Regions from separate parts of the Homo sapiens genome. Here region 1 is reported to be linked to region 2. Evidence: microRNA targets listed by miRTarBase, many of them from high-throughput screens and not tested one by one. Region 2 holds a microRNA gene; the other region holds the end of a gene's coding sequence.
The links. The annotated mature microRNA hsa-miR-4714-3p reads CCAACCUAGGUGGUCAGAGUUG and lies in region 2 at 921-942, shown strand. An mRNA with a match to its seed (bases 2 to 7 or 8) in the 3' UTR can be bound and repressed. Matches are read on the target gene's strand: a 7mer-m8 pairs with bases 2 to 8, a 7mer-A1 pairs with bases 2 to 7 and ends in A, and an 8mer does both.

Region 1: the mRNA of RAPGEF3 is a reported target of hsa-miR-4714-3p. The part of its 3' UTR that is shown has no 7-base or 8-base seed match.

What each region holds. Positions count from the first base shown.
Region 1 is chr12:47,735,064-47,738,161 of GRCh38, forward strand. It overlaps RAPGEF3 (Rap guanine nucleotide exchange factor 3), which reads right to left. Exons shown (of 28, transcript NM_001098531.4): 27 at 2,959-3,030; 28 at 1-2,622. The coding sequence ends at 2,504. Among named protein-coding and RNA genes, the nearest start is that of ENDOU, 11 kb to the left of the region's middle. RefSeq lists an enhancer at 3,082-3,098.
Region 2 is chr15:98,783,553-98,786,740 of GRCh38, forward strand. MIR4714 (microRNA 4714) reads left to right here and starts at 874; the gene lies at 874-950. The region is part of intron 2 of IGF1R (insulin like growth factor 1 receptor); the gene reads left to right. It overlaps LOC124903560 (a long non-coding RNA gene), which reads right to left and starts at 401. Exons shown (of 2, transcript XR_007064772.1): 1 at 1-401.

The DNA.
Region 1 (3,098 bases), not on the chromosome of region 2:
GGAGGGGGGATGTGTGTGTAACAATGACCTCCCTCTGTCCTGTCCTGCCCGGTAGGACACACACGCAGCCATTCCTCTCTGCTTGACCTCCTTTCAGGTAACAGAGGCTTTTTAAAGGACTGATCTAGGGCCACACTCCCTTTCTGCACACCTTCTTCTCAGCAGTCCCATGAGCCCCTCCTCCCTTTGTGGCCTTCTTGCAGCTGAGACACAAAATGGGAGCCCCTGCACACAGCCTGGGCTGCTAGGGAACACCAGAGGATGCCTCCTGCCCCACACCACCCCACGCTTGGGCAGTCAGGGAGACAGAAGGCAGCACAAACTCCCAGCATGGGGCCACCGTAACATGGAGCCTTTCCCCGCTTTTGGGCCTCCTGTCCTCTGGGAGTGGCCTGGCCCCCTGGGCCGCAACTCTTCTAGCTCCCAGAGTCTGTGTCCTCTTGCCTGCCCTGGGCACCATTCTCCTGGCAAGGTCTCTCCCAACAGGCTCAAAAGCCATCCTGCCCGAGACTGGGGCAGCTGGGAGACCACCGGGTGGCTGCAGGGTGGTCTGGACTGTAAAGCTGATGGTCCAAGGAGGAGGGAGAAGTCCCATCAGGACGTAGATGTGACCAGAGGAGAAATGCTGGTGGAGGACACCGGCCCCCGTGGCACTTGGTTTCTGTTGTGTCGCTGGGCTGGGCTCACCCTAGAGTCTGAAGAACGGTGAAGGGCCACGGCTGGCTGGCTGGCTTTTGCCGAGACACCAGCAGACAATGGGTTGGATGAAAAGAAAGCCCCCGGACTCCTGACTCACCCAGGCTTGAGCCTCCTGTCCTGATTGCTCAGTTCCAGATGCTTCCGTGCTTCTCCTGTGTCCCCACCCACGGCAAGGGAACTGGTTTGGTTACCACTGCCATCTGCTGCACCTCAGTCTCTCCCTCAGCCCTCAACTGAGGCGAGGCTGCCCCCCTACCAGGCCTGGATAGCACAGGACTGCCCTTGGCTGTCACCTCTGCTACAGAGGCAGGAGCTACAGTTTTATGTGTTTGTCACTAAGCGCTGTATGGCGTTTATCATACCTGGCTTACAGGTGGAGAAATGAAGGAAGAGAACTGTTCACTGACTTGCTCAGATTCACTTAGTGACCTGAGGTCTAAGCCCAGCTGTGCTGCCTCCCTGCTAAAGGCTCTGACCCTTTCTGGAAGCAGCAGGCCTGTGTATCCACATCCATGGGGCTGAAGTGCAGAGGGGCCATACCAGCTGCCTCTGGACGCCCAAGGCCCTGCAGCCTCAATACCTACTCAGGAGTCATGCCAGGGGCCATGAGTTCTCTCTCTGGCCAGACAAGTGCCTCCTGCTGCCAGGACTCAGGGCAATAGCAAGGCAAGAGGGTGGAGTCCCTGGAGCTTCCTGGGTGAGCTCTGCCTCGCAAGAGGCGTCCTGGCAGTAGCTGGTTCCTAGGGGAAGTGCTGAAGGGGCAGGGAAGAGAGGACTTCGTATGACCAGAGCTTGCTGGGACCATTCTCAACACTGATGATAAACCCTGATTTCCTGGAAGTCTGTTGGGCCTCAACAAGCGACGGGCTCTCCGCGGAAGCTTCAGCATTGTTTCTATCACAAGCCACCCCCAGAAGACCCCAGAAGCCTGGCCCAACAGGCCAGGACGAGCTCAAGTGTGGAAAAGCGGGGATTGCAGTTGGGAAGAAGCTGTCAGTTGCATCTGGACTGTAAAGTCCTATTGGACCACCACGGGGAGCTGATGGTCACCCTGGCTGGCTGCTGACAGGGGCTCCAGGCTCCAGCCCGCCCTTTGGCCAGAGCCCTGGAGGCACATCTGGGTGGCATCAGGATCTTGGACCCAGTCTGGCCCGTGCCCAGCATGGGGCTGCTTCTCCTCCACAGCTCCTTCCCAGAGGGCGGGGCCTCAGCCTCCCTGCCACGCCCACTCTGGGCTGGCCTGGAACATACTACTATGTTGACAGTAACAATAAAGCTCCTCAGGGACCACCGCACAGGCCCGCAGCCCCACTGCCTGCTGTTGGAAGAAAGCTGTGGAAAGAAAGCAGGGGGCCCCTGCCCCAGGCCAAGGCCCTGCCCTTGCCACACACGGTACACACATGCAGCCTCTCTCTCTCTCTCTGTCCACTGTGAAAATAAACTGCAGGCCTGGCTGGACAACAAAGCCAGAGGCACAGAATCTGGAAGACATCTGGTGTGGAGACCTCTCTATTGCACACAACGTCCCAGCGCACTCCACTCTCCACCCACTCCTGGGGCCTCTCTGTCCTCCCTTCCTTGGCCTTGGGTCATTCGTTATTCCTGGCTCGGGTCCACTCCGAGGTCCTCCTTAGCTGCCAGTCATCACAGGGGATGGCTGCCTCCACACTGCCTGCTCCAGGGACTCGAGTCCACTCCACGGAGAGCCTTGCCCAGCTGTGGCCAGCCTGTGAGTATCTTGGCCCGGCACACCCTGGCTTTCCCGGCTGCAAGTGCCTGCTCCAGCTCCAGTCCCAGCCCCTCCTCATGGCTCCAGCTCTCGGGAGAGGCGGGAGAGTTCCCGCTGGTTGTCAATGACCTTCAGCTGCTGGACATAAGCCCAGGTGCTGGCTGGACTCCGGGTGCTCAGGGACTGCTCCGAGCCTGGTGGAGGAGAGTAGTCAGGGAGGCACTGATGCCCCTTTGTGGAACCCAACCTTTCCCCTCCAAGGAGCCATATCACATCTGCCTTCTTGCCCTCCACCACCCACCAACCACTTCCCATCACCAATTCCTAAAGACGGCTGTCCCTGCCCACCCCACGGGTGAGGGGACCGAAGAGCCCCCTGGCTCAGAGCACAGAGGCTGAACATTATCAACATCATGTATGGAAGGGCCGGGCTCCGTGCCTGGCACATGGCAAGTGCCTAGGATGTGCCAGCCATGGGTAACTACCATAAGCACCCCCTCCCTGCCCACCCACCATCGCCCACCACTTACATGTGGAAATCCTCGCCACCTGGCTGTCCTCGTGGAGGTGGGAAACTCGGCTTCTGAGTGGTGAGAGAGGCACTGCGGGGGTGGGGAGGGGTCATGGAGTCAGGGCCACCCTGGAGCCTCACAGAGGATGTAGGGTGGGG
Region 2 (3,188 bases):
TCCCTCCATTTATTTAGTTTTTCTTTGATTTACTTCATTAGCATTTTGTAGTTTTTGTAGTCCTGTGTATGTTTTGGTAGAGTTACACCCTAAGTATTTAATTTCTTTGCTCATTGCCAGTATATAGAGATACAACTTATTGAACTCACTTTTTAGTTTATGCTAGTTTATTACTAATTATCAATACATGCTCAAGATATGTCAACTCCTTTTATTTTTATTAGGTGTCACTTGCTACATTTTGTGGAGAATACCGATGCTGTTGCTAGAAAGTGCTGCTGTCACAAAGTGGGTTTATAGATAGTACCACGCTATCCTTCTTCCTAGGCTAGATTAGAAGTTATTTATGTGCTATATGCACATAGAGTTTTTGATTGGTCTATTGCAAATACTATGGCATCTGAAATTTTTTTTTTTTTTTTTTTTTTTTTTTTTTTTTTGAGATGGAGTCTCCCTTTGTTGCCCAGGCTAGAGTGCAATGGCGCAGTCTCAGCTCACTGCAGCCTCTGGCTTCCGGGTTCAAGCGATTCTCCTGCCTCAGCCTCCCAAGTAGCTGGGATTGCAGGCACCCGCAACCACACCCGGGTAATTTTTGTATTTTTAGTGGAGACAGAGTTTCACCGTGTTGACCAGGCTGGTTTCAAAGTGCTGGGATTACAGGCGTGAGCCACCGTGCCCGGCCCCTGAATCCTATTTTTAAGTATAAAAAGTCTTTTTTCAGCTCTGGATTATGGTGCTGCAAGCTGATATTCTTCTCATGGCAGTAAACAGAGAAGTCCTAGGGGTAATCTTACCCCTCTGGGGAGTCCAGGATATCTGAGCATCTCCCTTTTCTTTTTACTGCTAGAAAGAATTTCTGCTAGTAGAATTTTTATTTTGGCCAACTCTGACCCCTTAGGTTGATGTCAGAATGAGGTGTACCAACCTAGGTGGTCAGAGTTGGCCAAAATACACATTTTCCTGCTGAGCAATTTAGTCTAGGTTAAGTCATACTTGACCATATGCCCTAGTTTAGCGTCCAGTTTGTGAACATTCTTTACCTGAGTTATTGTAATTCTAATCTCTTATGTAAAACTGCAGGTAGTCAGCCCTTTGTCTCCTTCAGTTCTACATCTGCGGATTCCTTCAACTACAGATTAAGAATATTTGGGGGGAAAAACAGTAAAAAAAAATTACAATACAACAATAAAGACAACAAATTTAAAAACTAGTATAACAACTTTTTATACAGCATTTGTATTGGGTATTGTAAGCTAGAGATGGCTGAAAGTCTATGAGACGATGTGCATACGTTATATGCAAGCGCTGCCATTTTATTGCAGAGACTTGAGCATCCAAGGATTTTGTATCCGTGGGAGTCCTGGAACCAATCCCCCTTGGATACTGAGGGATGACTGTATTTACAACATGTCTAGATTTTCGACAACTTGAATTAAACCAGAAAGAATATGAACACACAGAAGTTCATGTGTATATATATATGTGTATGTGTTTAGAAGGGAGCAAGCTGTTAAACATGGGAAATAGTTGCTAGTAGTTTGTAATTTTATGATTACAATTTTAAAATTCAATTTTGCAACTGGAATTTGACTTGATTGGTTAGTGCCTTACAGTAATTAACCTCCAAATCATCAGAATGTCATCTTGTTATTTAGGTAATTGAATCTACTTTTCTTGTATACAGAATGCTTTTTGGAAACAATACACTGTATATCTAGTTTGTACCAAGAACTAATTGTACACAGTCAGATACTTGCAGTTCTTTTGGACTTGAGTTTCTTTATCCTTCTATCAGATGTCACAATTCCCTCTTCCCTTTGTAGCATATGAAAGTAGTTGTGTGTGCACTGTATTTGAGAATGTCAAGTAATAGAATCTCTAGAAAACATTCATGATTTCAGTCCCAGGTAATCCAGAGTTAAAAATAATGTTCATAAGGAAGGGTAGCAAAATTTAGATTTTAATACTTATAGGAGGTGTGTTAATTGGCCCCAGGGCCGCAGGCTTTAGCGTTCAGAGGACTTTAGCCCCAAAGGTTTTGTGGAACTTTTCCAGAGTCCTCACCAGTACATTGGGAATAAATGGAATGCCTTTGGAAGTACTTTGAAGATTGAATTCGATAGTGTTGGTAAAGCAGTCTAGCCTGCTGTGATTGTGCTATTGATGCAAATATTCTCTAGCCTGTATTATTTTTCCTTGGAGCTCAGGAAGTGATCCCCACCCACCTCAAGCAGTAAAGGAAAGAGAGGCAGGAGGGTCTGACCATGTGAGGTGCCCCAATAAAGCATCTGTATTGTAAATCAGGAATGTAGGTATTGGGTTTCCTTAAAACAAAGCACACCTACGTGACCACTAGCTGGAGCACAATGTGGGCTCGGTCTGCTGAAAGAGTCAGTTGGTTGCGGCTGTCTAATCCAATTATGGATGGTCCCAGCGCTCAGCCTTTCAGCTGCTGCCCCTCCCCTGCAGACTCTGCCTCTCTCACCCTCCCTTTTAGGGCTTGGTCTGTGGCTACCCCAGAAATCACGTGCACTCCTAGGCTTCAGCGAGTACAGCCTTGTTAATCTCAGACATGGAAAGCAAGTTGCCTAGGTCTACAGATGAGTATTCAGTTTCCCCACCAGTTGACCTCAGTGCAGGTTTTGTTGGTTCCAGTCATTTGGGGTCAGCACCTGTTTGAAGCCAGGACACTTAGAACAAGGTGGAGGAAAACCTGAGGGTACATACAGTGTGGTTTCCTTGGCTCATCTAATGCAGAGTCAGAATGATTAGCCACATTGCAAATTGTCTTTACTCAGTGGTTTAATTGTTAACCAGGGAGTTAATTTTTTTTTTTTATTAAACAAAGAAGAAAACACCTCTAGATTTTTCTGGGACAGATGGCCCCATTGAAAGAGGCCATGTGCTGCAGCGAATGGCCAGGCCTCGGGTGTGGCAAGTGCCTTCCAGCTCAGTGCTTGCTTTGTGCTCCTTTGCCTATTTGAAGACGTGGATGAATCAAAATCTATAAGCCTATTTCAGTCAAGTATTCTAAGGAACCTGGAAACACAGGGGATTTCTCTGTTGCCTCTAATACAGTGAAAAACCACTGTCTTTTTTTGTTGTTGTTGTTGCATTGGGGGAAGAAAGTCCAGGTTTGCATGTACATTTTCACTCATAGGATTTTTTTTTAGAATAGTTTGGGGAGG